6 separate regions of the Homo sapiens genome follow, and all the other regions are reported to be linked to region 4. The links are microRNA targets in miRTarBase. Many come from high-throughput screens and were not tested one by one. Region 4 holds a microRNA gene; each other region holds the end of a gene's coding sequence.

Evidence for each region. The annotated mature microRNA hsa-miR-26a-5p reads UUCAAGUAAUCCAGGAUAGGCU and lies in region 4 at 1,286-1,307, shown strand. An mRNA with a match to its seed (bases 2 to 7 or 8) in the 3' UTR can be bound and repressed. Matches are read on the target gene's strand: a 7mer-m8 pairs with bases 2 to 8, a 7mer-A1 pairs with bases 2 to 7 and ends in A, and an 8mer does both.
Region 1: miRTarBase lists FAM177A1 as a target of hsa-miR-26a-5p. Seed matches in the 3' UTR shown: 8mer at 1,294-1,301, 7mer-m8 at 1,453-1,459 and 7mer-A1 at 1,588-1,594.
Region 2: miRTarBase lists RTF1 as a target of hsa-miR-26a-5p. Seed matches in the 3' UTR shown: 7mer-m8 at 3,441-3,447 and 8mer at 2,145-2,152.
Region 3: the mRNA of HGF is a reported target of hsa-miR-26a-5p. Seed matches in the 3' UTR shown: 8mer at 1,208-1,215.
Region 5: the mRNA of UBE2A is a reported target of hsa-miR-26a-5p. The part of its 3' UTR that is shown has no 7-base or 8-base seed match.
Region 6: miRTarBase lists RND2 as a target of hsa-miR-26a-5p. The part of its 3' UTR that is shown has no 7-base or 8-base seed match.

What each region holds. Positions count from the first base shown.
Region 1 is chr14:35,080,841-35,085,840 of GRCh38, forward strand. FAM177A1 (family with sequence similarity 177 member A1) reads left to right here. Exons shown (of 5, transcript NM_173607.5): 5 at 182-2,538. The coding sequence ends at 388. It overlaps PPP2R3C (protein phosphatase 2 regulatory subunit B''gamma), which reads right to left. Exons shown (of 13, transcript NM_017917.4): 13 at 4,632-4,938. The coding sequence ends at 4,750. LOC101927178 (a long non-coding RNA gene) reads left to right here and starts at 241. Exons shown (of 5, transcript NR_110415.1): 1 at 241-719.
Region 2 is chr15:41,479,747-41,484,835 of GRCh38, reverse strand. RTF1 (RTF1 homolog, Paf1/RNA polymerase II complex component) reads right to left here. Exons shown (of 18, transcript NM_015138.5): 17 at 4,511-4,622; 18 at 1,273-4,255. The coding sequence ends at 4,149. It overlaps LOC105370790 (a long non-coding RNA gene), which reads left to right. Exons shown (of 3, transcript XR_932169.3): 2 at 157-341. Among named protein-coding and RNA genes, the nearest start is that of ITPKA, 12 kb to the left of the region's middle. RefSeq lists an enhancer at 1,113-1,162.
Region 3 is chr7:81,698,459-81,703,547 of GRCh38, reverse strand. HGF (hepatocyte growth factor) reads left to right here. Exons shown (of 18, transcript NM_000601.6): 18 at 791-4,538. The coding sequence ends at 967. Among named protein-coding and RNA genes, the nearest start is that of HGF, 69 kb to the left of the region's middle.
Region 4 is chr3:37,968,128-37,973,216 of GRCh38, forward strand. It overlaps MIR26A1 (microRNA 26a-1), which reads left to right and starts at 1,277; the gene lies at 1,277-1,353. CTDSPL (CTD small phosphatase like) reads left to right here. Exons shown (of 8, transcript NM_001008392.2): 6 at 3,280-3,372. RefSeq lists enhancers at 947-1,510, 1,511-2,072.
Region 5 is chrX:119,582,215-119,587,303 of GRCh38, forward strand. It overlaps UBE2A (ubiquitin conjugating enzyme E2 A), which reads left to right. Exons shown (of 6, transcript NM_003336.4): 5 at 374-462; 6 at 913-2,209. The coding sequence ends at 1,041. Among named protein-coding and RNA genes, the nearest start is that of UBE2A, 10 kb to the left of the region's middle.
Region 6 is chr17:43,027,699-43,032,787 of GRCh38, forward strand. RND2 (Rho family GTPase 2) reads left to right here. Exons shown (of 5, transcript NM_005440.5): 4 at 363-497; 5 at 734-4,343. The coding sequence ends at 982. Among named protein-coding and RNA genes, the nearest start is that of RND2, 5.0 kb to the left of the region's middle.

The sequences.
Region 1 (5,000 bases), not on the chromosome of region 4:
GGTTATTTCAATTAGAGAGCAGGAGAAGGGAAAGTATGTCTTAATTAGACCAAACTGATTTGAACATGACACTTTTTTTTTTTTTTTTTTTTAAACATAAGCTGACAGTGGGGAAAACAGCACTATATACCTTTTGGACTTTCGTATTTCAACTATTCTTGATATTGCTCCTTTTTTTTAGGAAGAAGAAGAAGAAGAAGAAAACAGGATGTCTGAAGAAGCAGAAAAACAATATCAACAGAATAAATTGCAGACTGATTCCATTGTTCAGACAGATCAACCAGAGACAGTGATATCCAGCTCATTTGTGAATGTCAATTTTGAAATGGAGGGAGACAGTGAAGTAATTATGGAAAGCAAGCAAAATCCAGTCTCTGTCCCACCATAAAATGAAATGACTATCAAGCTTCAAACTCTTAAGTTTTTTTTTTTTAATACAAAAACTTTCACATTCTTTATTCAGTGGGACTTAATACAATTATTTATATTTTAAATTATTAAAGTATCTGGAAAGGGAAAATGTTTTCTTCATTTTTAGGATCTATCTAGCAAAAGCCAGATCTGAAATTCAGATATTTGTACTGTTTTTACTGTGTATAGAAATTAGTGCTTTGGTTTTAAAATGATCTTTTAAAAAAGTTAAGGACATCCTAGAGCCTTAATAGTTAAGAAGAGTTAAATTATCAAGCCTATTTGTGCATTTGCTTTTTTTGAAAAAGGTAAGTTGCTGATTAAGTCTAATTGGAATTGATAATTCCATAGTCTTAGATTAAAATGAGGATATTTTCTCCTAGATTTTCTCATGTTATGCCATGCATTTATATATCTAACCATTAATTTCACACTAAGGATGCTTCACCATATAATAAAAGGAGCAAGATGGAAGCACTTTGAATTTTCTTTCATTGAGAATAACTGTTTTATGTAAGAATCTGTATTTATAACACCAGATATTAAGATAGGCTTCCATTTTTTAATGCAAGCCACTTACTTAATCTTGTATTCTTTTTCAGGACTCAAATAACTAGCTTTGAACATAATATTAAAACACTACTTATAGAATAGATTTATTAATGTTAATACCTAGTGAATATCCATGTGGCATCCTGGTTATGTTATCGGTTCAGCGTTAATCCTATAGAAAAGTGGTTTGGAGGGGATTGGGGGATAGTGGGACAGGTATAGATTTAATCCATCAGGAGCAATTAGATATTGTATAAGGTGCAATGATAGCCTAATGAAATTACCCGTCATTCATCATTTAGAAGTAGCAACAGTGAAGACTGGACAGTTTACTTGAATCTGGTTGGCCACTCCTCTACCTACTTGGTTATTTGTAAACCTTACAAATGTATATATTGTGAAGCTAATTTTGAAAATATTCCTAAATATGGCCAGGTACGGTGCTCACACCTGTAATCCCAGCACTTTGGGAGGCTGAAGTGGGCAGATTACTTGAGGTCAGGAGTTTGAGACCAGCCTGGCCAACGTAGTGAAACCCCGTCTCTACAAAAATACAAAAATTAGCCAGGCGTGGTGGTGCACGTCTGTAATCCCAGCTGCTCGGGAGGCTGAGGCAGGAGAATCACTTGAACCAGGGAGGTGGAGGTTGCAGTGAGCCAAGATTGCACCACTGCACTCCAGCCTGGGCGACAGAGTGAGACTCCATCTTGGGGGGAAAAAAGTATATATATATACACACACACAGACACACACACACACACATATATCTCTAAATGTGTGTATAGAACCTTTTATCAGTATAACATTGATTTATAATTAAATGTGGGTGAGGAAGAATGTGTGGAGTGTTTCAGAAATTTTGATCTTAAAAGCCTTTTCAGAAACTCAAAGCTTTCAGAAATTAATAGTTATATTAATAGCCTTCTAAACAGCATTAAGTTTTCAATTTTAATATATCTATATAAAATATAGTGTCAAAGAAAGTAACATCAATATAGTGGGTCTGTAATGGAAATCTGTCAATGAACATGAACTGAGTTCTTCAACTACAGGTTGAAGGATAATTAAACTTTTCATTAGGAGTGTTCAGCTACATGGATTCATGGAATGGTGGTTCATAGTAAGTGATGGTAATCTTTTTATTCATGGGTGTAAACCCTTTATAACTTAGTGCTTAAAATATTAATCTTTTGATTATATAATGTCCCATGAATTATAGTTTACCAATAGTTCTAAAACATGCTAACCTGACCTTTTCCTTCTAATTTGTTTTTAACTTCATTCGAGATAGTACCTCTCACTCACAGATATTTATTTGGTTATCAAGTGAAGATAGGTGTGTCTAAAAGTGATCTTCTGAATCCTGTCTCCCTAGAGGTACTAGTATCTAGAGTTTACCCAGAAAATTTTATGATTGTAACAAAAGGAAGTAGTGACTTATGAAGGTTTTGTTTCTTGAATTTTACTTTTGCTACTTGTCCAATAGTGGCTAGTTTATGTTTATCAATATAGTTATTCACTGTGCCTTAAGTTTATACTTTGTTTATGCAAACTATAAAATTTCCCATAAATGTATTCAATGGTTTGTCTTACTTTAAGCCTCTTTCACTCACTTTTTCCTATCTCCTTTTCAGTCCTTTTAAGAATTCCAGTTCCAGCTGGGCACGGTGGCCCACGCCTGTAGTCCCAGCACTTTGGGAGGCCAAGGTGGGCGGATCACTAGGTCAGGAGTCCGAGACCAACCTGGCCAACATGGTGAATTAGTAGAGATGGATTTCTACTAAAAATACAAAAATTAGCCGGGCATGGTAGCAGGTGCTTGTAATCCTAGCTGCTCGGGAGGCTGAGGCAGGAGAGTCACTTGAGCCTGGGAGGCGGAGGTTGCAGTGAATGGAGTTTGCACCATTGTACTCCAGCCTGGGCGACACAGCAAGACTCGTCTCCAAAAAAAAAAAAAAAAACAGAATTCCAGTTCCTTCTGGATCATAGTTCATATTTACCTTCTTCTAATCTTTCAGCATCTCATAAAAACTAAATGTAATGTATAACTGAAGTCTTTATCCTGAATTAACATAAATTCTTTAACAAAAATCCTTAACAAAATGAAGTTTGTTTTTTGGTTTGGGACAGGGTCTTACTGTGTTGCCCAGGCTGGAGTGCAATAGTGCAATCATGGCTCACTCCAGCCTCGACCTCCTGGGCTTAAGCAGTCCTTCCCTGTCAGCCTCCTAAGGATCTGGGACTACAGGCTCACACCACCATGCCCAGCTAATGTTTTTTATTTATTTTTTGTAGAGACTTGGTTTTGCCATGTTGTCCGGGCTTGGAATTAAGTTTTGTAAAATGTAACTCTGGTATTGGTTAATAAAACTAGACAATTTTTTTTTTTTTTTTTTTGAGATGATGGAGTCTCACTCTGTTGCCAGGCTGGAGTGCAGTGGCTCAATCTTGGCTCACTGCAAGCTCCGCCTCCCGGGTTCACGCCATTCTCCTGCCTCAGCCTCCTGAGTAGCTGGGACTACAGGCACCCTCCACCACGCCCAGCTAATTTTTTGTATTTTTAGTAGAGACGGGGTTTCACTGTGTTAGCCAGGATGGTCTCAATCTCCTGAACTCGTGATCCGCCCACCTCAGCCTCCCAAAGTGCTGGGATTACAGGCGTAAGCCACCGTGCCCAGCCAACAAATTTTTTATACCAATGATTTTCATGAAAGTAAAATACTAGTTTGAATACATTTTATTAAAACATCCAATTAAAAGAAAGAACAAGGCTGGGCACGTGGCTCACGTATCACTGTGAATCATGGTGGCTATAGTCCCAGCACTTTGGGAGGCCGAGGCAGGCGGATCACCTGAGGTCAGGAGTTCGAGACCAGCCTGGCCAACATGGCAAGACCCCCATCTCTACTAAAAATACAAAAATTAGCCAGGCATGGTGGTGCACACCTGAAGTCCCAGCTGCTTAGGAGGCTGAGGCAGGAGAATCGCTTGAAGCTAGGAGGTGGAGGCTGCAGTGAGCAGAGATCATGCCACTGCACTCCAGCCTGGGCAACAGACGGAGACTGTCTCAAGAGAAAAAAAAAAAAAACCGCAAAACAAAAAGGCTGGGCGTGGTGCCTCACACCTGTAATCCCAGTACTTTGGGAGGCCGAGGCGGGCAGATGACTTGAGGTCAGGAGTTTGAGACCAGCCTGGCCAACATGGTGAAACCCTGTCTCTGCTAAAATACAAAAATTAGCCAGGTGTGTTGGCAGGCGCCTATAATCCCAGCTACTCAGGAGGCCGAGGCAGGAGAATCACTTGACCCCCCCTAAAAAAAAATCCTAATCCTAACCCAGAAATAAAATGGCTCTACTCATGAATGGGAAAGTTTGTCATCTTTGAGATTTTATATATATAGACACACACACACACACATGTTGTGTGTATATATATATGCACTGTCAGTCAAATATTCACATTCTAAATGACTGTCAGAAATATTCCATGGAAACTTCATCTCTGAAGATTATACAGATTTAAACTGAACATCATCTACCTACAGCAAATCACACTTCCCATCTTTGAACTAAAAGGAACCAGAACTTACCCCACCTCCTAACAAGCAATATTTGGTCCTATTGCTTCTAAACTATTGCAACCAAAATTCCAGTAACCAAAACATTTGCTGTGTTCTCTAGGCATATCAAGTGTTTTATTTAGACCATTTCTGAGGATTTTGCTTTAAAGGCTTTACATGCAGCATTCAAGTATCTCATAATATAAGACAGTCTAGTCTTTCAGAGATCATGTATCATCAAGGTCTGCAGAGTTTTCACTGTCATTTGCAACAAGAGCCTCTCTGTTCTCGTAAGTCCAGAAGCCATTCAAATCGATTAGAATGGTGGTTACTGTGTCTCCTTGATTACTGTTGATTAAATCCTGAAGAGAGATTTTCAAAGGATCCTTTGGTTTTACCATGTCAAAGATTTCATCCTGCAAGAGAAAAAAAAATACAATGAAATTTGATCCACTTAATTTCTATCACACATAGTGAT
Region 2 (5,089 bases), not on the chromosome of region 4:
TGAAAAAAATTTGAGCTGGGAGTTGATGGCTTCCTAAGGCTGCTGGATCACAGCCACATTATAGTTACTGAAGGAAGATCTCCCTTCTGGAAAAACGTGGCCAGGGAGATGAAGTTGACCAACCCAGCACCCTTCTTCTCTCCACTTGCACCCCAGGTGTTCTTTCTGGATTCTCAGAGATAGGTAGCAAGTGGCTGCCCCACAGCACCCAAATCCTGGAAGATAAGCAAGCTATGTTGTCATCTGCCCAGAACCCCTGCTCTCTAGGTCCCACTGCTCCCACCAGTTAGGTAGTGGGAGTGCTGGGGAGTTGGAGAAAACCTCATTGGACGCACTTGCAGGTAAGCAACCTCTCCACCACCAGAAGCGGTCTTGGACGTGGCTCTTATCACTGTGATTGCCATCCCTTGCCTTCTTAAAGGGTGTGGAAGATCCAGGATCTTCTTGCTTCCTAGCTAAAATGTGTTCAGAAAGGTTGGAGACACAGCCTCAGGCACTGGGGATGGGGAGGCCTATAGACCTCCCCAGCATGAGGGGTGCGTGGATGAAGGAAGATCAGTGTTTCCTCCATAGCCACACTCATGGCCCTTGGGCACCCCCTTCAAACTCATGATAGCCAGAAAAAAGAAGAGCAAAGAAACTGTGCCTAGGCCAATTTAAAGTTGAAAGGAGCTGAGCACAGTGGCTCATGCCTGCAATCCCAGCATTTTGGGAGGCTGAGGCGGGAGGATCACTCGAGGCCAGGAGTTCAAGACCAGCCTGGGCAACATAGCAATATTCCGTCTCAACAGAAAATTTAAAAATTAGCTGGGTGTGATGGTGCATGACTGTAGTCCCAGCTACTTGGAATGGTGAGGTGGGAGGATCACTTGAGCCCGGGAGGTTGAGGCTGCAGTGAGCTGTGATTACACCACCGCACTCCAGCCTAGACAGCAGAGACCCCAGCTAAAAAAAAAAAGGTTGAAAGGCCCAGATTCTCACTAGGGTTAGGCAGTACATCAGGGGTCTACTTAGCTCTGTTAAAACTTATTGGTCTCTTACCAAGACAGGAAGTAAACCAGGACAACTGGAGGTTTCCTTGGGTCTAGGCAACTACCCTACCAGAGAGGCTTCCGGGGAACCAGGCTGCTAAAGAGTTGACGATGGCCACTTTCACTTTTGTGGGCACAGGGCTAAGAGAAGAAGGAAAAGGAGCAAGAGAGGTTCTCTTGGACTTTCAAAACATGGCTTTAGGAGTTGCCACTCAGGATGCAATCCTTAGACTCAATCTGATCCCTTTGTTAAAATGGCATAACATTTATTTACAATATTGGTACAGTTTGAGTGGCAAGTCAGGACTTCACAAAAGCAAAAACATTCTTTTTGAAGGGAGTGGCAGGCAGTAGACTTTCCCTACACCTGCCAGAAGCAAGACAGACAAACAGACCTATAAACATTATGAACTAGGCAGATGGACACTGGCCTTTTTGCTTCTTGGAAGGAACTGAAAAAATGCATAAAAACAACCTTGGGTGCTGCACCCTTCAACACTGAAACCACACTGTGGAGGGAGGAGGGGCCCAATGAGGGAATTCCCCAGCACAAGAAATAGTGTGAACCACCAAGAAATCCTAGTTGGTAGGACAAAGCCAGTGTCTTAATGCCTGACCAAGATCTTGGTTCAGAGGCACTGCCTCAGCTGAGATTGGAGACAAGTCCTTAGTCTTGGTCCCAATCACTACAGAGGCTACTCGGGTGGAAAGATACCCTTCGGTCTTCTTTGGTTGGCTTTTCTCCCTGCTGTGTGCATTGGCATCTCGTGGGGGTTTCAGCGGCTACATGTGGGGAGGTGGTGGCAAAGTGGCTACAGTGTGATGCAGTTTTAATAAAAATTTTATTACACAGCCATAATGTAATCAACACTTCTCCAAATCCAAATGATACTAAATACAGATCTACATGGTGGATCAGAATGACTCCAGCGAATTATCTGGATTCTATAATTTTATGTTTTTTAAAACCAGAAATCAAAAAAAAAAGTCCAAGTTCATCATGATAGGAGAGGTCCCAGCAGCTCCAGGACTCTGCTGAAGTCCAGGCAATGTTAACAGTCTGTGATTCCACATTTACACAATAGTCTATAAAGAGTTTCGGTCAATGGACTATTCAAGTATATATGATTTTAACGAGTCCATCACCACTCCTTTGCCCAAGTGAACTGTGTCACAGCTACCACAAAGCTGTGTTACAGTCATATTTAGCAATTTTACAATCATAATACTCCTTTAAAACCATCCATTGCTGCTTTAAAAATAAAAAAAAAGTAAACTAAGTTAAAGCGACACTGAGGCTCTACTAAACCCAGAAGTTACCAAGTTCATTTTTATGTTTAAATACAACTTACAAGTCCATGATTTCCCATCGTCCCCCTTCCTTGTACGAAAGCAGGGTGAGGAAGTACAAAGCAGAGCTTTTAGATTAGTCTCTCGTGGAGATCGGAGCTCTCAGCTGTTCCTTTAGCTTAGCTCTTGGTATATATAGTCAGCTGTACTTTGTTCTGAAAGATTTGTTAAATGCCACTTTTATTTACACTTGGAGCTTTACACCTGAGAGTGATTATCAAGCAGTCAGTTTATCTCTTTTCAAACATTTCATAAAGACATACACACACCTCTGCTGGCTTCGCCCTAGCTGCACAATATATATGCTGACCATATATATGTATACACACACACAAAACTGCACATGCTTGAAACATTTGCAACCTAAATCTTTTTGAGGCGGAGTCTCACTCTGTCACCCAGACTGGAGTGCAGTGGCACGATCTTGGCTCACCACAACCTCCGCCTCCCAGGTTCAAGGGATTCTCCTGTCTCAGCCCCCCGAGTAGCTGGGATTACAGGCACGCACCACCATGCCCGGCTAAGTTTTGTAGTTTTAGTAGAGATGGGGTTTCACCGTGTTAGTCAGATTGGTCTTGAACTCCTGACCTCAGGTGATCCACCCGCCTAGGCCTCCCAAAGTGCTGGGATTACAGGCGTGAGCTACTGCACCCGGCGTAACCTAAATCTTTTTGTGTTTGCTCTCCACATTCATATTCAGAAATTTCTCTTAAAAACAAAATGTAGTTCTTGCCAAAGCAGCAAAACAGAATCACCAGGAAGAGGCTGGTATACTGGGTGAGAAAAAGAAGTTCTACGTTCAGCCAAGAAGCTGTGGGCTGTACCCATGGGAAGAGCAAGACATTCACTGCCCTCCCTGGTACCTGGCCATGGGCTTCCCTCCCACACCTGCCAGGACACAGCCTGCAGGTCAGGGGGCTAAACTGGGGAGTTTTCTCCAAAGTTGGGAAAGGATGGGAAGAGTAGGTGGGAATGGGGAAGTTACACAGCTACAGCAGTCAGGCCTGTTTAGTAAGAAGAATCACATTTAATGAGTTTCTTTCTTGCAGTTTCAGATGCTCAAGTACAGCTGAAAAAAATCTGAAACAGCTATAGACCCATGACAGACTGATACAAAGAGTACTGCATTTTAAAAAAATGATAAAAAAATCCACACACTTACACACACACACATACACACTCTCGCTCTCAAATTAGACCCCCCCCCCCCACAAATGTACACTTTTTGGAAACTAAACTGGTTTTGAAACCCCTTCTTCCAAAAAGAAGGGCAGAAGAGAAAGATGAAGAGAGGAAAGAGGATCGCAGGTGCCCAATCCCCGCTCCCCCCACAAGGTCACGTGCCGAATGTTCAATGGGTGGGCCAAGGCAGTCTGTAGAGGAGACCGCCTGGTGCTGCTGCTATTGCCCCAGGGGCTCCAGCAAGATTCCCAGCTCCATGGTAATACTGAATGCGTGCAGAGTGGCCAATGAACTGCGCGGTTAAAAAAACAAAAGGCAAACACAAATCTAAAGACATGGATAAAGCCCAAGAGAGCCCAGGCCCACACTGGGTGGGGCCCTGGGGGAGGGGAGGCTGGTGGGAGATGGTGTGCAGACAAAGGAGGTCTATACAGCAAATGGTTTATATTACAGATGACTGGCAGTTTAGAGTCTCTTCCCAGTTCAACAGCTGCTCCAGCCCAAAGAGGCTAAATCAAAGGAAAGGAGGAAAGGTGGGACGCTGCGATGGGGCATGCAGGGTCAGAAGCAGCAGGCTGGGTGTGCTCAAATAAGCCCTCGTCGTTTTTTGTAGTCTTCCAAGTTCAGAGATCTCCTTGGAGCCCCATCCTTGGCTGGCGGAGCCTTGGAGGTGATGGCTAAAGCCTTTGACTCTGTGGGAAAGAAGAGCAAGTTGGCAGCTGAGGTCCCACAAAGTCCTCTTAGTCCTGTGCTACACTCCTGCAGGCAGCCTCCTGACTGTGGCCCTGTTCCCTCTCACCATACCCACAGCCTGTCTTGGCCTGGCCTGTGGATGCTGATGAGCCAGCATTCCCCTTTCTTCCCTAAAAGTGGGCTTCCTTGTTGCCCCAGAAAACCATGGATCCATCTGGTTCTCAGCCCTCACCACCCGCCCCACCCTCACATACCTGAGCTGGGAACTTGTAAGTCAATCTTCACATCAAAATCGTGTACTTTGAACAGATCTTCTGAGAGGTCACTGGCTGACTTAGAATTCAAATCTTTATCTTTGCCTTGACCCTGGAATGTGAAGAGGAAAGCTAATGGTAAGAGCATAAATGCAAGTGGATTTCAAGCAGCAGCAGCCACTAACGGTACGAAGCTCTTATTTGAGTTCATTAGATTTTCCTACTAAGGCCCCTTTCTGATTCCTTCTCTCAGAGGGAGGCCACAGACAAAGAGCTTTCTCTCCTGAAGGCTACAAGCACAGAGAAGAGGGCAGGCTTGTGTCTGTGGTATGAGTGTAGAAAGGGTGGGCTTAAGCAACGGGTCACTTCCTGACCTAAGATTTCAGAAATCCTGAGACCAGTTAGACTACAACAGGAAAAGACTTAACTTGGACAGAAAACTGCTTTTTTTTTTTTTTTTTGAGGTGGGAGTCTCACTCTTGTCACCTAGGCTGGAGTACAACGGTGCAATCTTGGCTCACTGCAACCTCCCCCTCCCAGGTTCACGCGATTTTCCTGCCTCAGCCTCCTCAGTAGCTG
Region 3 (5,089 bases), not on the chromosome of region 4:
ACCATAAATGAATATATGCATGTATATATACACAACACAAATAAAGCTATCTGTTCATCTTTCCTCTATCTGATGATGCAACAGGCTTACCATATAAGAAATGCCATGAAATCACAGGACACGCTACAGAAAGGAGGGTATAAAATATAACTATAACTATATTAACTACTAATACCAGCAGTAACTGGAGGAATATTCCTTGCCTGGAAAAGCAATTTCAATTAACAGAATTATTTTGTTGACAACAAGTTTTTTATTTAACTTGTTAAGATCATGTAGGGCAGGATTGGGAGAGGCAAAAAAAAAAAGCTTTAGAAATAAGAAAAAATATAATGCAGTTTAATTGTTAAAACTATATGATTACAAGTTATTTTCTTTTATACTTGTATTTTTCTACATGTTCCAAATTTCCTATATTGAACATAAGAAGATCAAAATAAATATCAAATCTACCTTATTAAATAGGCACCGATGGTTATATGTTAGTCTGCATCCAACAAAGGCAAAGCACACTTAAAAGGATGGTTGACTCTTTTGGAAAAGGCAAGTCATTTTTAGGAGAATACCACACATAATAGAACACTTTAAACTTTGTACTTATCTCAGTCTTGGCTAATTCAGTAGAAAGTCAACAAATGTCTAGTACACTAATTTTTATATCTTCATATTTCAGTTGCAGTTATTCTCTTTTTCTGTATATATCTCTGAGATGCAAATCTATATATGATTATGTTAATGAGCTTTTTTTTAATTCCTAATAATACTTTGTTTTTGTATGTCTTACTCCTAGGGGGATTATGGTGGCCCACTTGTTTGTGAGCAACATAAAATGAGAATGGTTCTTGGTGTCATTGTTCCTGGTCGTGGATGTGCCATTCCAAATCGTCCTGGTATTTTTGTCCGAGTAGCATATTATGCAAAATGGATACACAAAATTATTTTAACATATAAGGTACCACAGTCATAGCTGAAGTAAGTGTGTCTGAAGCACCCACCAATACAACTGTCTTTTACATGAAGATTTCAGAGAATGTGGAATTTAAAATGTCACTTACAACAATCCTAAGACAACTACTGGAGAGTCATGTTTGTTGAAATTCTCATTAATGTTTATGGGTGTTTTCTGTTGTTTTGTTTGTCAGTGTTATTTTGTCAATGTTGAAGTGAATTAAGGTACATGCAAGTGTAATAACATATCTCCTGAAGATACTTGAATGGATTAAAAAAACACACAGGTATATTTGCTGGATGATAAAGATTTCATGGGAAAAAAAATCAATTAATCTGTCTAAGCTGCTTTCTGATGTTGGTTTCTTAATAATGAGTAAACCACAAATTAAATGTTATTTTAACCTCACCAAAACAATTTATACCTTGTGTCCCTAAATTGTAGCCCTATATTAAATTATATTACATTTCATATGCTATATGTTATAGTTCATTCATTTCTCTTCACCATGTATCCTGCAATACTGGTACACGAACACACTTTTTACAAAACCACATACCCATGTACACATGCCTAGGTACACATGTGCATGCACTACAGTTTAAATTATGGTGTACCTAATGTAACCCCTAAATATTTTAGAAGTATGTACCTATAGTTTTACCTCAAAAAAACCAGAAATCTCTAAAGACCAGTAGAAATATTAAAAAATGATGCAAGATCAAAATGATTAGCTAATTCTCCATACATAATCTGCAGATGATCTTCTTTGGTTGGCATTTCAGGTGTGGCCATCACCCAGAGTTAAATAACACCTAATCTAGGTGTTTACATGTATTCATTATCCTAGTTATTTCATGTAGTTTCTAATTCTTAAAGGAAAGAGGGTAATAGTTCTATTTGTGTAATTTGTTTCCTCCAAACTTAAGGCCACTTATTTACACAAGATATTTGTAGATCTATTTTCCTAAAGCATTTCTTAAGTGCTCAGATCAGTATCTAATTGAAGAAGTTTAAAAGTGTTTTGGTCATTAAAAATGTACTTAAATAGGTTAAATCTAAGCCTTGCTGCTGTGATTGGCTTCTAGCTCACTGCCTTTAAATTTTAAAAAATTTAAGAGGAAAATTTCCAAGTCTCCAAAGTTTTATAAATACCCTTCATCAAGTCATGCATTAAAGTATATATTGGAGAAAAAAATAAAAATACTTTTCTCAACCTGGAAGATTTTAGCCTAATAAAGCTTTTTTGAAGTAAAAGACAACTTGTAAAAGGAAAGAAACTAGTTTGTCTCAACTCTGTATTCATTTATTTTTTTTTTGAAGTAGAGTGGAATCTGTTGAATCAGATATTTTATCAAGATATGTTTATTTTTTCTTATTTCATTTTACAAAGTTCACTCCTAATGCCATATGTAACAGACATTTAAATTTTGTGTTCTGTATAACAGCCAAATTATCATATTTATCATTGTATTTGTCATGCTTAGCTAAAGATCATGTATTTGTTGAGAAATAGAATAACAAAAAGTAATAGGATAGGCTTTGAATTTTTGCAGAAATCTTCCTGTACAAAACACCTTTAAAAATAATTTTTTGAATGGTGTGAATCCAGTAGTCCCATTTCTCTGACTTAGTTTTCTTGAGTGATTTTTATCAAGGCCAAGTCCCCAAACAATTCCCTACCAGCTCTTTAGAGTACTGTTCAATCTGGACTAAAATGGTTTTAAGTTTATGGAGAGCTTAGTCCACAGAATATAGGGCGGCGAGTCCAGAAATGCTTATACAATTTTTTTTTCATAATAAGATATGTGCTGGCATCAAGAAACTTAAAGTGGAAGCAAAAAGACATCCAACTAGTTGCTGGTCTCTATCATCTTATCTGATGGTATTTCTATTTTCCTTATATAATACACCATTTTAGTAAGAACTCCTAGAAATTTCAAGAGCATATTGCCAAAATATAAAGTATATTTCATAGTTTCTTCTGGCTGAACCAGTGAAATTTTATTATTGCATATTAATGATATTTGTAAAACTTTTATAAAAATTGTCATAATTTTAAATACTCACATTTTAAAAATACTTCTTTAATGACTCTTCCTCTAAATTTCCTGGAAATACAGATAAAGATTAGCTAGATACAAGATACAGCTAAGTATTTAGACATTTTGAGGCTAGTATTTTTCATTTTATTAAAGGCTAAAAACAATACCACCAATAAATCATCAAACAAACCGTACAAAGTAATTCTCTCTTTGGGAGGCTCCTTTCGTGATAGAGGGACATGGGTGGAATTGACAATGAAACTTAGATGAACAAGGTCCATGTTATTTTAGGTGGTAGAACAGGGTAGAGTCATGTCATTATTTGCTGGTGGAAGACACTATTTACCAGGTGTTCTTTGCTGAATAAATCATTAAACATTTTTAAAAATCCAACAATCCACTTTATTTTGTGTCATTGACAAAAGGATCTTTTAAATCAGAAGGTTTCAATGCAATTTTTGGTTTGGCTGTTTGAATAATGGTTATGTACTGTTATAATTGTAGACATTTTCTCACGTCTACCAGGAATTGAAGTGTAAAACTAAAATATTTTTCATAATGCCTCTGCCGTGCAGAAGGAATGATAATCCTTTTGTATACTTCTTTAATTTTATTGTAAAATGTGTAATGACTTTTACCTATATGCTGTGGGCAGGTCCTCAGTAAAATCTATTGAGTCAATTTCTAGTATTAACAGGCTTTTGCTTGCTATCTAAGTGTTTCAAATTATGGGAAGTGTGAGACACTGGAAGGCAAGAAAATTAACAATAATGGCATGTGATAGCAAAATTGTATTTCACTTATTCCTGTGAATATTTCTTGTTGGTACCAATGGTACTGTACAAAGTGAATGTTATAGCCACAACATTCTCTTGAAAAGAACACTGTCAAGAAGTGGGAAATTGCTGTCAGGCATTTCATTGTTGTTTTTAAACTTTTTTAAAAGAAATACTGGTTTTGCAATATAGAGATCATGTGGTAAAGAATTTTAATAAGATCTTATACTAAAAAGCCTTAAATCAATTTATTGAGATTCAAAAAATACTATTATAATTAATTACATCCCATACATATAGGCAAACTCATTTAAAAAATAAAACTAATTTTGGTAAAAGTACATGGCCTTTGTTTTTAAAATACATAATTTTAAAATAAATCACTTGTCATGATAAAGTCCAAAAAGAAGTTATCATTCAACATTCAACTAAGGTTGGAGCTAAGAATTTACTAATACAAAAAAAGTTAAAATTTTTTGGACCATATATATCTTGACAGTGTAACTTTTAAGTAGGTTCATTTCCATTTGCACAGAAAGTTTCTGTCTTTAGGAAACTGAAAATGAAATACTGTGGATGCTATGACTGTTTGTCTTGTATGTAAATAGGAAATTAATAAGCTGCCTATTGAGTGGTATAGCTGTATGCTTACCCAAAAAAGGGAACACTGTGGTTATGACTTGTATTATAAACTTTCTGTAGTTAATAAAGTTGTTATTTTTATAACCATGATTATATTATTATTATTAATAAAATATTTTATCAAAATGCTTATTTTCTCTGTTATGATTATTTACATGTACATATTTATATCTGTCTTAGGGCCTAAATGCAGAAAATAGCAATGTTGACTTCACTGACAAAAATTACATACACGTTCTTGCAAAAACTATAATACAACTTGTTTATAGAACTAAGACAAAAATCATTATTTTATTCCAACTAATATCCACAGCAATATAGTTGGTCTTCAGTAAACCATTAATCTCTATGTACTTTAGTTTCTCCCACCGTAAAATGTAACTATTTGTTTATTCTTCATATTTGCTAGAATGGTGCTATGTTGTTATTTGCCAATATATACAAAATATTCCCATGAATTTTCACCTAATTTCCTTTCTCATGCCACTATATAATACAAAGGTGATTTTAAATTATTTAATGAATCACTTTGGGTATCTCTTTAAAGTGTGCATTCAGTTAAGAATAAATAAGAATCCAATGGATTCATTTAATTCAAATTGGAAGAACTAGTCCTCAATGATCTAAGCAAAGAGAGCTCTATAACACCACTGATTATTTCAAATTGTATTTTACTG
Region 4 (5,089 bases):
GAATTTCAGAAGTTTCCGTATCCCCCACTGGCCTAGCTTGATGGTCTAATTAACTTCCTTGTGTAATTGCTTTCGGCTACTCTCCTAGCAGGCAACAGGAAAATGCCACAAGTCACCCACTTATGGTGGACTCTCGGGAAAAAGTGTCCATTTTCAATGCCAGCTGCTCCAGACTGATCTTATCATTCCTGCATCGTTTTCTCCAGAGAATCTTTAGCAAATACCCACCCCAAAAGAAAAAGGGGGAAGGGTGTGAGTTTTCGGATCCGCAGGCTGCTATGAATAAAGATGCCGTAGTCAGTTGGCATGCGTCTTCGTTGCTTCTGATTTTTTTTCCTTATCTGCATAAAGCTCTTCCGGAAATAACTTCATTTATGAACAAATTGGGAATGTTGTAGGAAAACTAGCTTTAGAGGTTGAAGCTGGGGGGCTTTTGTCAGATTTTCCACAGGGATGATCTAACCATCTTCCTTGTCAAGTCCAAGGTCTTAAAGGGAGCGTATCTGGCCTGATATCCCAGGAAGGAGACTTTCCTGGTACTTGAGCCACAACGGGATGTCTTTTCTTAGCAATGTCAGTAGTCTTTGGTTCTTGAGTGCAAGGTGTCAGAACTGGAGAAAGCTTGGGAATCAGCTGGTCCAGCTGCCTCATTGTCTAGATGGAGAAACTGAGGCTCCGCCAGGGAAGGGGTTGGTTAAAGGTCATACGATGGGAAGAATTAAAATGAAAATTCCAGTCTCCTGCCTCCTGGCCCAGGGCTCTTTTCCTGATACGCAAGTCCCTTCCCTCCCATGTCCTTGCTTTCTTGCTTATTCTCCAGGACATCCTGCCAGGAAACAGTCCCGGGGAGAGGCAGCTTTTTTCCTAGTGTTTCCACACTTCATGCTTTTAAAAGCCATCACAGAGCCAAAACGGCAGGCACTTGGGCATTTAACATTTGCAAAAGCATCAACTGAATTAACTCAGCATCTGAGAAGCAGTTAAGGCTTCTGCATTTATCATCTTGGCTTGTGTTACATAGTGCTCATGATGAGACAAAGGAGAGGCTGCCCAATGGCATAGCAAGAATTAGGAGAGAAATTAATCCTTTGTACCACGTGACTGTAAGCATGACTGGCCTGCCCACTGCTGACCCATTCTTGCAGGAGCTCCCCCACCCTCCATCCTGGCTGTGCTGTGATATCACAAGGTCCCAGGGCTGGGGTCAGAAATTCTCTCCCGAGGGAATGAAGCCACAGGAGCCAAGAGCAGGAGGACCAAGGCCCTGGCGAAGGCCGTGGCCTCGTTCAAGTAATCCAGGATAGGCTGTGCAGGTCCCAATGGGCCTATTCTTGGTTACTTGCACGGGGACGCGGGCCTGGACGCCGGCATCCGGGCTCAGGACCCCCCTCTCTGCCAGAGGCACCAACACCAGAGTTCACAAATCAGTCTCCTGCCCTTTGCATGTAGCAAAGCTTGCTTTCCAAGCAGGACTCCCAGGGTGACTGAGGACTACAGGCCACACCCGTTTGCTGGCAACGAGGAGTCTTGTGGGCAAAGTGGGAGTCTGCAGCTGTTGCAGCCACAGGCCCTGCCCTCAGCCCTACCCCAGCCTCCCAGCTCCTCAGAGCTGTGTTGGCACCCGTGCTACGACATCCTGTTCCTCCAGCCCCTCGCTCCACCCTCAGCCACAAATCCATGTCCACCTCCTTCTTTCAGTCACCCATGAATTTCCCACTGAGTCCTGGCCCTCCTGAGCTCCTGCTTCTGGCACCTTGAAAATGACTTGGTTCTGTATAGAATTCCTCGGCCAGCAGCACACCCAGCATGTGGTGCAGAGCCCTCATCTCCCCTCTGCTGCTCCTCCTGCCATTCTCACCTGCTCCATCTGCCATTCAAGGCCCTAATGTGCCCACTGTGACCTGCCTCTCACTTCATCTTCAGCCACTTCCTCTCCCAGACCCTGCTGCTCCGGCTTCTCTCACTACCTCTGATGGCTGGGCACACAGCCTGGCTACTCTCTAGCTTCTCAAGTATTCTCAGGCCTCGGGTCTCACCCTCTACTGTTTCCTCTGCCTGAAAGCCCACTTCTTCTCAACCTTATTGGCCTGGTGAACTCCTTCAAGGTCCAGGCCAAATGTTATCTTCTATGATCCCCTCCCCTTGTGAGGGGAGTTAATTGTCCTTAATTTATCCCTCTACTACAACTTTCATTATGCCATGTTTATTTTTATATGTTTTTGCCTATGTCTGTTCTAGAGTATGAGCTCTTCAAGGGCAAGGCCTGTGTTTTATTCATCTTTGCAACTACATCAGGCTGAGCTCAGAGCTGAGGCTCAGTAAACATGCTGAATTGAATTTTAAAGAGTTTGATTTATTTTAGTGAAGTGGCTAATTTCAAACGGAATTTATTCAAGTTTGAATTAGTTCTTCCCTCCTCCCACTTCCTCTGTCTTCTCTCACCAGCTTTGCCTTCTCTCCCATCTCCCTTGTTTCCCCAGATTCATTCAGGCTCCCTAATCAAGAACCTATGTATGGTCTGAAGCCTGGCCTCCTCACTGCTACCCCCTGGCCTGGCCTGGTCAAAAGGGTGCACAGAGCCCAGCCATTCTAGAAAAGGCTACTCTTTGCACCCCTCTGCTCAGAGACCCCTCCTGATGGATTATGTCTGGGGTCCAGGAATAGCGATGGTTTCACATCCCCTGAAACATACCAAGCCCACCCTTTATGGTGTCATAGACAGCTTCCCAAGCTGACAAGGAAGCCCCTTCTTGCAGCTTTGCTGGGCCTGTGCTTCAACCCCAGACCTTCCTAGTAAGGGGGATGTCCATCCAGAACAGAAGGTGGCAGCCGGAGCAATCCCAGACCTGCTGGGCAATATGCTGGGCCTGGACCTCTGAAAGGACAACACCCAGACCGTGGCCCGTGCCCACACAGGTCCTGACCCTCAGCAGGTGCCAAGAAACACACGTGAAATGAATGAGTCATTACACACAAACATGGTACAACCCTTCCATTTGCTGGCCCTGAATATCCCCAAGACCCTCACACCATGGTCAGCTTCTCTTTTTCCCTTAGGAGGGGCGTCTGCAGTGAACTCAGACCTGGAGCCCTGTCTGAGGAGTGCCACGTCTGACTCCATAGCCCCTCATACAGTCTAGGCCTCTGCCTGCTATGCATAGACCTGGGGGAGGGAGGCAGGAACCTTTGTAGCAATTCTTCCTACAGTGGGCATTTGGGCCCCAGGCCATCCCCAGCAACTGCCACATCTGACCAGCCTGCTGTCTCCTGCCATTGCAGGTGTATGTGCTGAAGCGGCCACATGTGGACGAGTTCCTCCAGAGGATGGGGCAGCTTTTTGAATGTGTGCTCTTTACTGCCAGCTTGGCCAAGGTGAGTCCTGCTTCCCAGCCCCACACTCCCAGCCTGGTACTCCCAGCCCCTCCACCCCTACCCCCAATCTGTCAAGCAGCCCTTTGTTTTGGTGGGGGAAGCCATTTCTATGGTGACAGGTTCCCACCCCAGATGGGATGGATGCAGGCCATGTGCATGGTGCCAGTCTGAAAGCCTTCTGGGTTACCATGGTGACAGGGAGCACTTAGAACAAATGCTCCATGAAGTTGCTGTGTGCAGCCACCTGAAGCTGGGTGTCCACAGTCCAGAGAATCACAAACAGGTCCAGTGTAATGGACAAAGGATGGTGTACCCCTCAACCATTGACTGTCAGCCAACTGCTAGAGGCCCCTGTGTCCTTGGGTTTTGCTTTCACAGATTTGAGGGAGAAGCAAGTGAGAGATAAGTGTTGGACACTCACCCACATGCTTGGGCTGAATGAGAGTTCCAACTGCCCTAATGAGCTGTATGATCTGAGGCAAGTTACTTCACTTCTCATGTCAGTTTCTTCTATAAATTGGGGATAATTCCAGCTACCTTGTGGCTAGATCACATGAAATAACATATGTAAAGGACTTAGCACAGTGTCTGGCTCACATACAGCAAGTATTCATTGAGCACTTGCTGTGTTCCACATACTGTGCTGGGCATTGTCACATGATAAGCACTCCTGATGTTCATTATTTTGTGTTACAATTATTTGTTGATGATGATAGGCCGGGCGCGGTTGCTCATGCCTGTAATCCCAACACTTTGGGAGGCCAAGGAGGGCGTATCACCTGAGGTCAGGAGTTCAAGACCAACCTGGCCAACATGGTGAAATCCCGTCTCAAAATACAAAAATTAACTGGGCATGGTGGCGGGCATCTGTAATCCCAGCTACTCGGGAGGCTGAGGCACGAGAATTGCTTGAACCCAGAAGGCAGAGGTTGCAGTGAGCCAAGATCATGCCACTGCACTCCACCCTGGGCGACAGTGACTCCGTCTCAAAAATATATATACATATATTTATTGGTGATGATAAAATCATTCAGACATATCTTGATCCTAAAGCTTGATATGAATCTGACCTAAAATCTACACTGGCTCTGATCAAATAGAATGGTTTCTTTGTCCTCTCCACTGTTTAAGGAAACTAGCAGGTTCCCAAGCCTCCCAGTATGGTTTAGTCTCCCCCTTCACAGGTGTGGCAGGGTGCCTGTGCTGTGTGGGGCAGGCAGGGTAGGCCTTGCTTCTCCCAGGAGATCTTTGCCTTGACCATTTCCCAAACTCTGACTCTGATGGGGCTGACACCATCCATTTGTTGGTAGCACCACAGTTGTCTCCATGGGCATCTCAGGGACCCTGAGTGGTCCCAAAGATGAGTTTTCTGGGGCCCAGGTTAACCATTTGCCTGTCTCCAGGACATCACACAGTAGCTTCCTCCGCCATGTCCTGCTTCTGGACGGTGCCCTGATGCCCATACTCCCTTCTCTTCCTCTGCATGTTCCACTGCTTTGCTGGCCTGGCCATTGCTGGTTGGGTCCATCTCTGTGATGATTGAGGGGCGGGAGAGCCCCACTTGCACAAATGCTGCCAGACTTATCACCAGGCCTTAGAGCATGAACCAGTGGAGTGGGATTCAAAATCCTCGTCCTTATTTTTGCATTTCAAAAAGAGAACAAGGCCTCAGGGAAAATAGAGTCTTCCCCAGTGGGTAATCTTTCAGATGAGTGGT
Region 5 (5,089 bases), not on the chromosome of region 4:
AGTGATCTTTTGTTATTTCAGATAGGGGATACAGCCTACAAATTTGGTGGAATGAATTTCCCACATGTCTGTGGATAGCTAGGGACCCTGTTCAAAAATGTTTCTGATTTCCTGGATAATAGGGCAGCCTTTTCCAAAGGATGAACACTAAATATCTTCCAGTTTTATACTGATCACATCTGACATTCTCTGATCATCCTGATTATTTCACTAGTGGTGGTTATGACTTATCTTTTTAGGCAGTTAACTGGGAAGCAACATAGGAATCTTTAAACTTCAAAAGCAAAGTATTCTTGACTATTTTTGTTTTGTCTATAATGTTAAAACCTTAGTGGTCTTGTTACGTTTAATGTACCTACTTCTTTGTTCTTAGTCTATGCAGATGGTAGTATATGTCTGGACATACTTCAGAACCGTTGGAGTCCAACCTATGATGTGTCTTCCATTCTAACATCCATACAGGTGAATTTTTCCTTAATGTGACGAACTATAACTTTTAATATGTTTATATTAGCAATTGAATTGTTTTTGAAAGTCATAATGTAATAGATCTTTTTATTTTTGGTCAAAGCTTGTTTGTTTTATAGATGAAAAGTAGACCATTAAGACCCAAGTCAGCTGGGTACAGTCGCTCACACCTGTAACCTCAGCACTTTGGCAGGCCAAGGTGGGAGGATTGCTTGAGTTCAGGAGTTTGAGACCAGCCTGGGCAACATAGTGAGACTCTTCTCCCTTAAAAAAAAAAAAAGCCGCATATATTTTCCTAGCTACTAGCAGATTCACATAACTCTGGGTTTGTATGCTAAAGACAAGAAATGTAGCTGTACTTAGGACAATTCAATTGAGTGTCACTACCTTATAAAATAGTTGTTTTGCATTAAGGAACTGACATTTTAAAAATTGTCTCTTTAGTCTCTGTTGGATGAACCCAATCCCAATAGTCCAGCAAACAGCCAGGCTGCTCAGCTGTACCAGGAGAACAAACGGGAATATGAAAAGCGTGTTTCTGCAATAGTAGAACAAAGCTGGCGTGATTGTTGACCCCGGGTACAGTTTAAAGAAGCTGGCCATAAGAAAAATATATATTGATGTGTTTGTCACCTCCCTACTCCTGTCATTACATTTACTTTATTAAAAGCAAAATAACTGTTGTGCTGTTTCCATCTTCCTTGCCAAGTTTTCCTACCCCTTCTACCCTCTCCTTAAACATCAGAAAACACCCTCTATGAAATCAAATGTACTGTACCTGGGTTACTTGCAAAAATTACTAATGCTTCAGTTTTTCTGTTGTATTTCATTTCCAGTTTTCAGGCAGTTATTTTTATTATTGTACTTTAAGCTTTTAAGATGAATTGTTATACAAGAGGTGCTTATGCTTAGCTTGATGACCAGGATGTTATTTTTAACAAAATGATTGCTGAAGTGTTTCATCCTGGCTGGTCCTTCACTTGTGTTGGATTTAGAAGTGAATGTGTTTGGAATATGGCCTACAGAGAATAGAAACAAATCCATGTAAACAATTTTGAAGGAGGCATGGGAGCTAAAAATCCTGTGATACTAAGATCTCAGTCATATGAATTACAACGTAGTATTTACTGGCAAGAAGGAGAAAGTTGAAGGACTCAGCTAAAGGAGTACAGCAATTGTAGTAACTGACACATCCTCTCTTTGCAAGCTGCTGACTGGGCACACTCATGCCAAGTTTCAGAATTATTGGTCTTCTGGGTTTTTGCTTTTTAAAAGAGGTGTGGGAGCAGAGGAATGGAAACAATCGTGAGTTTTTGAGCTAGGGAAAGTTGGAGCTCCTTTAATCTTTTTAAAGGATCAGTGCTGCCCTAAGTGAATAAACTCAATTGTCCATCTTTATTTTAGAGTTTTAATGAATTCAAGGAAGGGAGCATAGCATATCTGTGGCAAACTATTTTCCACTCAAATCCTGAGTTATTGCTGCATGCTTTAATTTCTTCCCTTTCAGCATCTGAGAACCTTAAAGCCAATGTCTGCGATCTTTTTTTGGATATTTATACTTTTAGATATATAGTACCTTTAAGTAGCAGTATGGGACAAGGCTTGTAAATGTTTTGTCTAATGTTCTATTGTCACCTTTTATGCATTTATCACTTCCAAATCTAACTTTGCACAAGTAACCCATGTAAAAAAAAATGTACATTTTTCAAAAGTTGTAAATAAAAATAACCTTAAAATTTCATAGTCAAGGTATCTTTTTTTTTTTTTTTTTAGCTCAGTATAAACTTTTTGTATTGGTTTCTTATTGGGATCTCATATGTACTCATTTCCCCCCTCAAACATTAAGGTAAAAGCAAAAATACTCATTCTGGGAGGGGAAAAGACAAGACAGATACTTCTGGAGAGAACTTTTTTTTTCTTTCCAGTCATAAGTGGTAATGCTTTTTAAATATATTAACAGAATATGTTGCCGGGCACAGTGGTTCACGCCTGTAATCCCAGCACTTTGGGAGGCCAGGGCGGGCAGATCACGAGGTCAGAAGATCAACCATCCTGGCTAACACAGTGAAACCCTGTCTCTGCTAAAAATACAAAAAGAAATTAGCCAGGCGTGGTGGCATGCCCCTGTAGTCCCAGCTGCTTGGGAGGCTGAGGTAGGAGAATCGCTTGAACCAAGGAGGCGGAGGTTGCAGTGAGCCAAGATCGCGCTACTGCACTCCAGCCTGGTGACAGAGTGAGACTTCTTCCTCTCAAAAAAAAAAAAAAAATTTAACAGAATGTAAAATTATTAAATAAAGTTACCTCAGTATACATTATAATCAATCAAGGGAATGAGGTTATGGGGGGCGTGCGGGGGGCAGGGATAAACCAACCTAGGTATTTATCAGCACCCTCAGAGACCAAGATCTAACTTGTTGATCCTGACATACCACCTCTTTAAAAGCCCTAGCTCAAAAACAAACAGTACCAAACTTTTTTTTTTTTTTTTTTTTTTTTTTTGAGACGGAGTCTAGCTCTGTCGCCCAGACTGGAGTGCAGTGGTGCAATTTTGGCTCACTGCCACCTCTGCCTCCTGGGTTCAAACGATTCTCCTGCCTCAGCCTCCTGGGTAGCTGGGATTACAGGCGCTCGCCACCATGCCCAGCTAATTTTTGTATTTTTAGTAGAGATGGGGTTTCACTGTGTTGGCTAGGCTGGTCTTAAACTCCTCCTGACCTCATGATCCACCTGCCTCGGCCTCCCAAAGTGCTGGGATTACAAGCCTGAGCCACCGTGCCCGGCCTAGATGGTATTTTAAATCCTATGCAAAGTTTGGGAGTACAGATATCCTCAATCACTTTGATTAAACAAAACTACTTTCTTCTGAGGAGCAACCCATCTCATTTGAAAGAGGCAAGGACAATGACTTTGTAAAAACTACCACCTCTTGGTACTTGTTTGGTTGGGTGGATGGGGCTAAATGAAGTTAAGTCCTTATGACACATGTATCTCACTCATCTTTTAAGACATGGTACTTGAAGCCTCAGTATGGAGTACAATCTGTACTAATTACCACATTACTTGGATTGTTTCACCTAGGAGCAATGTCCTTCAATTTGCTTAATAGTTTCCCTCAAGTCCATTTCTGCTTCAAAGTAGAACCACATTAAATTTTTCTATTTGGTGGATTAGTTTTACATTAACTTTTTCATCCTGCTATGTGGCTGAGTGCTTTAAATTGACACTGTTAATCATACCTGAAACAATGTAAGGCGAGACTCAGAATGGTCAGGTTTAATAACTTTTTTCTTCTGTACACCTGAGAAACACTATACCCAATCTCTTTCACAGGATAATCCATTTAAAACCTTACAACAGAGCCAACAAGCTGACCTCCCAAAACAACATATGCATGGTCAAAGGCACCACAAACCATTCATTTGAACATTTCATGCTAATTGCCTCTTTCTCCCTTTAAAATTTTTAACACCACAGGCTACATGTATTGATAACAAAGTTAATGAAAACAAATTTGCAATGTCCCTTTTTCAAATGGCAGTCAGGTTTGAACTTTTCAATTCTGCACGTGCTGATGTGGGGAAGGAGGTATGATGAAGAACCAAAGCTGCAATTAGAATCCTTTATTTAGGACCCATCTCCAGCTTCAGGGGTTACTCATAGCAAAGAGAATGCATTGTATACTACTAAAAAAGAATCCCAACAAAGTGCATGATATTGCCATTCATTTTGCAATCAAAGGGGAGGAAAAAAATCCAAAAAGTAGATCTGTGATACTAAAAGCTAGATATAAAATGGAAAGAACAGTTAGTTCCTCAGTATAAAAAACACTTAATCCAAATAAAATTTGAAATTGCTCATGTACCTGTACAGATTGTATAGGAAGGTTACTGGGTTAAGAATGACTACATTTCAAAGAAAGGGAAAATACAGTAACCAACTGAAAGGGGACAAAATGGAACAAAATGGAACAACAGCAAGCTTGTCAGCAGCTCATTCATGCCAACGCCATTCTCAACATTATTTTATCCTCAAGCAAGTTAAGTGATTTTGCTCTAATTCTGTATCAATATCACAGATCCTAAGAAGTTAGGCAATCTGGCCCCTCAAATCCAGTAACCAAATTTGTATCTACTTGGTGCAATTATTTGGGAGCCTTCCTAACTGTAACTACCTTAATATTCTGTTCTGTTGGACTCACCTAGACAAACCAGATTATATTTAACAATCCCCTACCTTTCCCTGCCTCAAAATCATTTGGGGGAAGAAAGAAATGTAAAGAGAGTAATCAGTGAAGTTTTCATATCCCTTAATCCCAAAGCCACTCTTACTCAGAGAATTGAAAACAGGTTTTTTTCTAACTCACAAATTCAACCATAGCTTCTGAAGGTTGGCATGAACCTTGTAAATTAAAAACAAAACAAAATTGTAGCCCGGGTGTAGTGGCTCATGCCTGTAATCCCAGCACTTTGGGAGGCTGAGAAGGGTGGACTGCGTAACTCCAGGAGCTTGAGACCAGAATCCCATCTCTACTAAAAATACAAAAAATTAGCCAGGCCAGGCGGTGCGCACCTGAAGTCCCAGCTACTCGGAAGGTGGAGGTTGCAGTGAGCCAAGACTGCGC
Region 6 (5,089 bases), not on the chromosome of region 4:
CTAGGGCAGCCCCAGTTCCCAGGTGGGGGAGGGGAGGGTGGGATAAATTTGTTCCCAGGAGAGAGTATGGGAAAGGCGAGTGGGAATGGGAAGTTTCCAGGCTGGCAGACCCTTCATAGCCACTGAGGGAGAAGAGTCCACAGGCCCACGCCAGCCCTCTCCTCCCCGCTGCTTCTCTCTCACCCCATCCTGCTCTCAAACCAAGCCTAGCATTCTCACCTCCTTCCTCATGTGGGAGAGTCCTGAGGGATACATGGTTTCTGCGTGCTTGAGGAAGAGAGGGCACACTGCTGGCATGGCACAAAGGCTCACGCTGTGCCTCCCTCCACCCCTCCACAATTCTCTTTTCTTCTCCTACATAGTGGCAAGGAGAGACTCAAGAGTTCTGCCCCAATGCCAAGGTTGTGCTGGTTGGCTGTAAACTGGACATGCGGACTGACCTGGCCACACTGAGGGAGCTGTCCAAGCAGAGGCTTATCCCTGTTACACATGAGCAGGTGGGACCCTTGACGTCTGACCTCATCCCAGCCTAGACCTGTCACCTCTGCCCCTTCAGTCTCTGATTTGAAAACACCTTACCTGGCTCATCCTTTGTTCTGGTCTGTGACCTCTGACCTGATCCCTTGACTGCCCCCAGCCTTGACATTCAACCCCAGCCCACAGCCTCCATGCCCCTTTCTAAGCTGCAGGCTAAGACCTATAACTTTCTCCCATGCACTCCTTCCTTTTCCAGGGCACTGTGCTGGCCAAGCAGGTGGGGGCTGTGTCCTATGTTGAGTGCTCCTCCCGGTCCTCTGAGCGCAGCGTCAGGGATGTCTTCCATGTGGCTACAGTGGCCTCCCTTGGCCGTGGCCATAGGCAGCTGCGCCGAACTGACTCACGCCGGGGAATGCAGCGATCCGCTCAGCTGTCAGGACGGCCAGACCGGGGGAATGAGGGCGAGATACACAAGGATCGAGCCAAAAGCTGCAACCTCATGTGAGGGGCTAGGAGAGGGCAGAGTGTGAAGAGGGGTGGTGAGGGACACAATTGTTCCCCTGCCTGCGCCCAGGCTTCCTGACCTCCTGATCCTGGCTGGGAAGTTAGGGCAGGCAGAGCGAGCAATTCTGGGCAGGGGAGCTGGAGGGCAGAAGGGTATCATCGTTTCTCATCTCCTCCTCCCTCCTCTTCTCCAGTGGATGTTGAGGGAGCTAACAGGGCTGGCATCTGGGGCATGAACTGGGATGGGGCAGGTGGGCGTTAGGGAAGCTGGTATCAAATGGTGACCTTGGTGGAGTCTCCTATGTGAAGAGTACCCTCCCTCTCCACCCCCAGTCCCCATATCCTGGTTCTGGCCCAAGGAAAATGTCCATTCTATGACCTTCTCTTTTCCTCTCCTCTCACTTCTGCAGCTATTCTCACACATCTAACCTCTAGGCAACATGCACTAAATTCAAAAGCAAGGAGAAGCCCTTGCCCCCCATCAGTCCACCAGCCCTAGAACCTCCCTTGCCTCAACAGTCACCTAATAAAGCCCACCTCCATGGAAAACGGCTGTGGCTTTAGTTTTGTTGCTTTTTAAAAAAATCAATCTACCAATCTTTAGCAGTAAGAGGGAAAGTTAGACCTCAGCTGGGGAACTTTCCTGTCCATGTCCACAGATAGAGCAGAGGACAAAGCCATAGGTTGGATCAGAAGTGTCCTTTTAGGAGTCAGAGTTGGGAGAAGGAGACATCCTGGGACTGTTCATCCTAGTTAATGAAGTGGGCAATTCTCAGGCCATTAGGGGGTTTTAGAGCAGACCGACATATAATTAGTCAGCATTTCTCAGCCCAGCCAGGCCTGCTGCTAGTGTGGGAGGGGTCCTGCTCACCATCTGTACCCCTGGCTTGGAGCCTGCTGGTACCCTGGGGGTTGTGGGGATAAGGAGGCATCAGGCCGGGCGCGCTGGCTCACGCCTGTAATCCCAGCACTTTGGGAGGCCGAGGTGGGCGGATCACAAGTTCAGGAGATCGAGACCATCCTGGCTAACACGGTGAAACCCCATCTCTACTAAAAATACAAAAAATTAGCCAGGCGCGGTGGCAGTGCCTGTAGTCCCAGCTGCTCGGGAGGCTGAGGCAGGAGAATGGTGTGAACCCGGGTGAACCTGGGAGGCGGAGCTTGCAGTGAGCCGAGATTGCGCCACTGCATTCTAGCCTGGATGACAGAGCAAGACTCTGTCTCCAAAAAAAAAAAAAAAAAAAAAAAAGAAGGCATCAAAAGCCTCCACATCACAGAAGCTACCCCTGTACAGCGTGAAGTTTCCTAAGAGGTCAGTAGTTTGATTCTGGGGTCTCCTTAGAGGCTCAGGCCAGGGACCTTTCTCTCCTCCCATGCTGAGTTTCATGATGGCTTTCAGGGGAGCATCAGCTGTTAGAGTCACCCCTACCCTGTCCCTTAAAGGAAAGACGGTGGAGAGGACGGCTGAGCGCCTGTTGTCAGGAAAGACAGTACTGGTCTGTTTTCTCGGGAGTCTGGTTTCAGATTGTCCTGTATTCCCTTCCTGGCTCTGGTCCCACTGGCCTCTTTTCGGTGACATTCTCCCCCAGGAACCATCCCTGGCCCTTCCCTCCCCCAGCCCTAGCCAGTTCTCCCAGACACACTGGAAGAGAACACTGACCTTACCCAACTATCTGCTGGGATCCCACCCAAATTTATAGCCCATTCCTCCCTCATTCATTCATTCAGCAAGTATGTACTGAACACCAACTGTGTGGCATACACTGGCTTGGGAGATTGCAAGGACCAGTCTCTAAGCTTTTGGAGGCCAGCCCAGTGTGGAAGAGAGGTACCTCAGGTGTGAGGGTGCCATGGCTGAGGGATATTTGTACATGTATGGGATGCTATGGGAGCTCCTTGCAGCCTGAGAAGCCAGTCCTGTGAGCCAGGTCCTGAGGGTTGAAGAGGAGTTTTCCGGGCAGGGAAGGGGTAGGAAAGGCACTCTGGGCAGAGGGTACAGCATGTGTAAACACGTGGAGATGAGAATGAGCATAGCACTGTTGGGGCTCCCATGGCAGGGAGAATAGAAGACAAGGCTAGGAAGGTACACTGAGGCTACTGCAGGGTCCACAGAGGAATCAGAATTTCATTCTGAGGATGAATGAAATCATCCTCAGAGGATGAAGCCACCAGGAATTTCAGGCAGAGAGTGAAGTGATCAGAGTTGTTTTTTGGATAGATGGTTATCTGGATGTGGTGTTGGAGCTGGGAGATTTGGCTCTGAGGTGTGTCATTTAAAATAATAGCTTCTCGGCAGTGGCTCACACCTATAATCCCAGCCAAGATTCCTCCTTTGGGAGGCCAAGCTGGGAGGATCGCTTGAGGCCAGGAGTTAGAGACTGCAGTGAGCTATGATCATGCCATTGTCTTCCAGCCTGAGTGTCAGAGTGAGACCCTGTCTCTAAAAAAAATTAAAAAATAAAAAATAAAAAATAGCTTCTCCTTTCCCTTATGCCAGGTTCCAGTCTTGAGAGGAAAGGAATCCCTACCCACCACTCCCTGGATCATCAGATATCCCTATCCCAACCTCTCCTATGGGACTAGTTCATCTCAGCCAGTCTCAAAGATTCTAGGATAACTTCAATGGCATTTGAAATTATCTAAGTGTGCTTGGATAACCACCCCCTCAAACTGAGACCTGGTTAGGGACTGACTCAAAGACCCTGAGTCCTCGGCTAAGGGTACAGGAGAGGGCAGGGGCTCCAGGCCCAGCTAGGTGGATCTCCATCTGTCTCTGAGGACTGACCCTTTCCCCACAAGGACCTGCCATAAAAATCGACTTGCGATTTTTAGCTGAGTGGCTTCTCTTTTCCACTTTGGACTTCTCAGTGTATAGCAGGTTCAAGCCTGCAACCACCAAAGTGCAGAGTGTGGAGTGTTTGTGCCCCCTCTTTCCTCCAACCTCCATATCCTGCCATGTGAGCTCAGGGAATGCAAATGCATTTAAATATCCATCTAAAGCAAACATAATTAGAAAAATCAATCAGCTGGAGGACCCCCCAAAGTTTAATACATTTTCAATACCACCAGGAATGGATTTTTGGTCCCTTTCTGCAGGTCTGGGTTGCCAGACGTTTTATTTCTGGGGAGGAGGGCTCTGGGCTGAGGAGCTCAGTGGGTGGGAGGAGGGAATGGGACTGTTGCTGATCCTCAAAGGCCTCTGTAGGATGGAGGGAGGGGACCTTACTCCCTTCCCCACCCCAGATGCAGGAGTCACCCAGCTTCCTTCTCTGCGCTGTTTCCTTCACAAATTAGACATTGGTTTGGGAAACAATGTAGCCTCGTTAAACATTTAATGAAATAAACAAATAATCACACTGTGATGGCTGCCAGAGTTTCTGTGTTTTTTTTTTTTTTTTTTTTTTTTTTTTGAGACGGAGTTTCACTCTGTCATTCAGGCTGGAGTGCAGTGGCACCATCTCGGCTCACTGCAACCTCTGCCTCCTGGGTTCAAGCGATTCTCCTGCCTCAGTCTCCTGAGTAGCTGGGACTACAGGCGCGCGCCACCATGCACAGCTAATTTTAGTGTTTTTTTTTTTTTTGAGACGGAGTTTCACTCTTATTGCCCAGGCTGGAGTGCACTGGCGCGATCTCGGCTCACGGCAACCTCACCTCCTGGGTTCAAGTGATTCTCCTGCCTCAGCTTCCTGAAGTAGCTGGGATTACAGCCATGTGCCACCATGCCCAGCTAATTTTGTATTTTTAGTAGAGATGGGGTTTCTCCATGTTGGTCAGGCTAGTCTTGAACTCCCGACCTAACGTGATCCACCCACCTCGGCCTCCCAAAGTGCTGGGATTACAGGCATGAGCCACCGTGCCCAGCCATTTTTGTATTTTTAGTAGAGACAGGGTTTCACCATGTTGGCCAGGATGGTCTCCATCTCTTGACCTCATGATCCGCCTGCTTCAGTCTCCCAAAGTGCTGGGATTACAGGCGTGAGCCACCATGCCTGACCTAATTTTTGTATTTTTAGTAGAGATGGGGTTTCACCATGTTGGCCAGGCTGGTCTCGAACTCCTGACCTCAGGTGATCCACCCACCTTGGCCTCCCAAAGTGTTGGGATTACA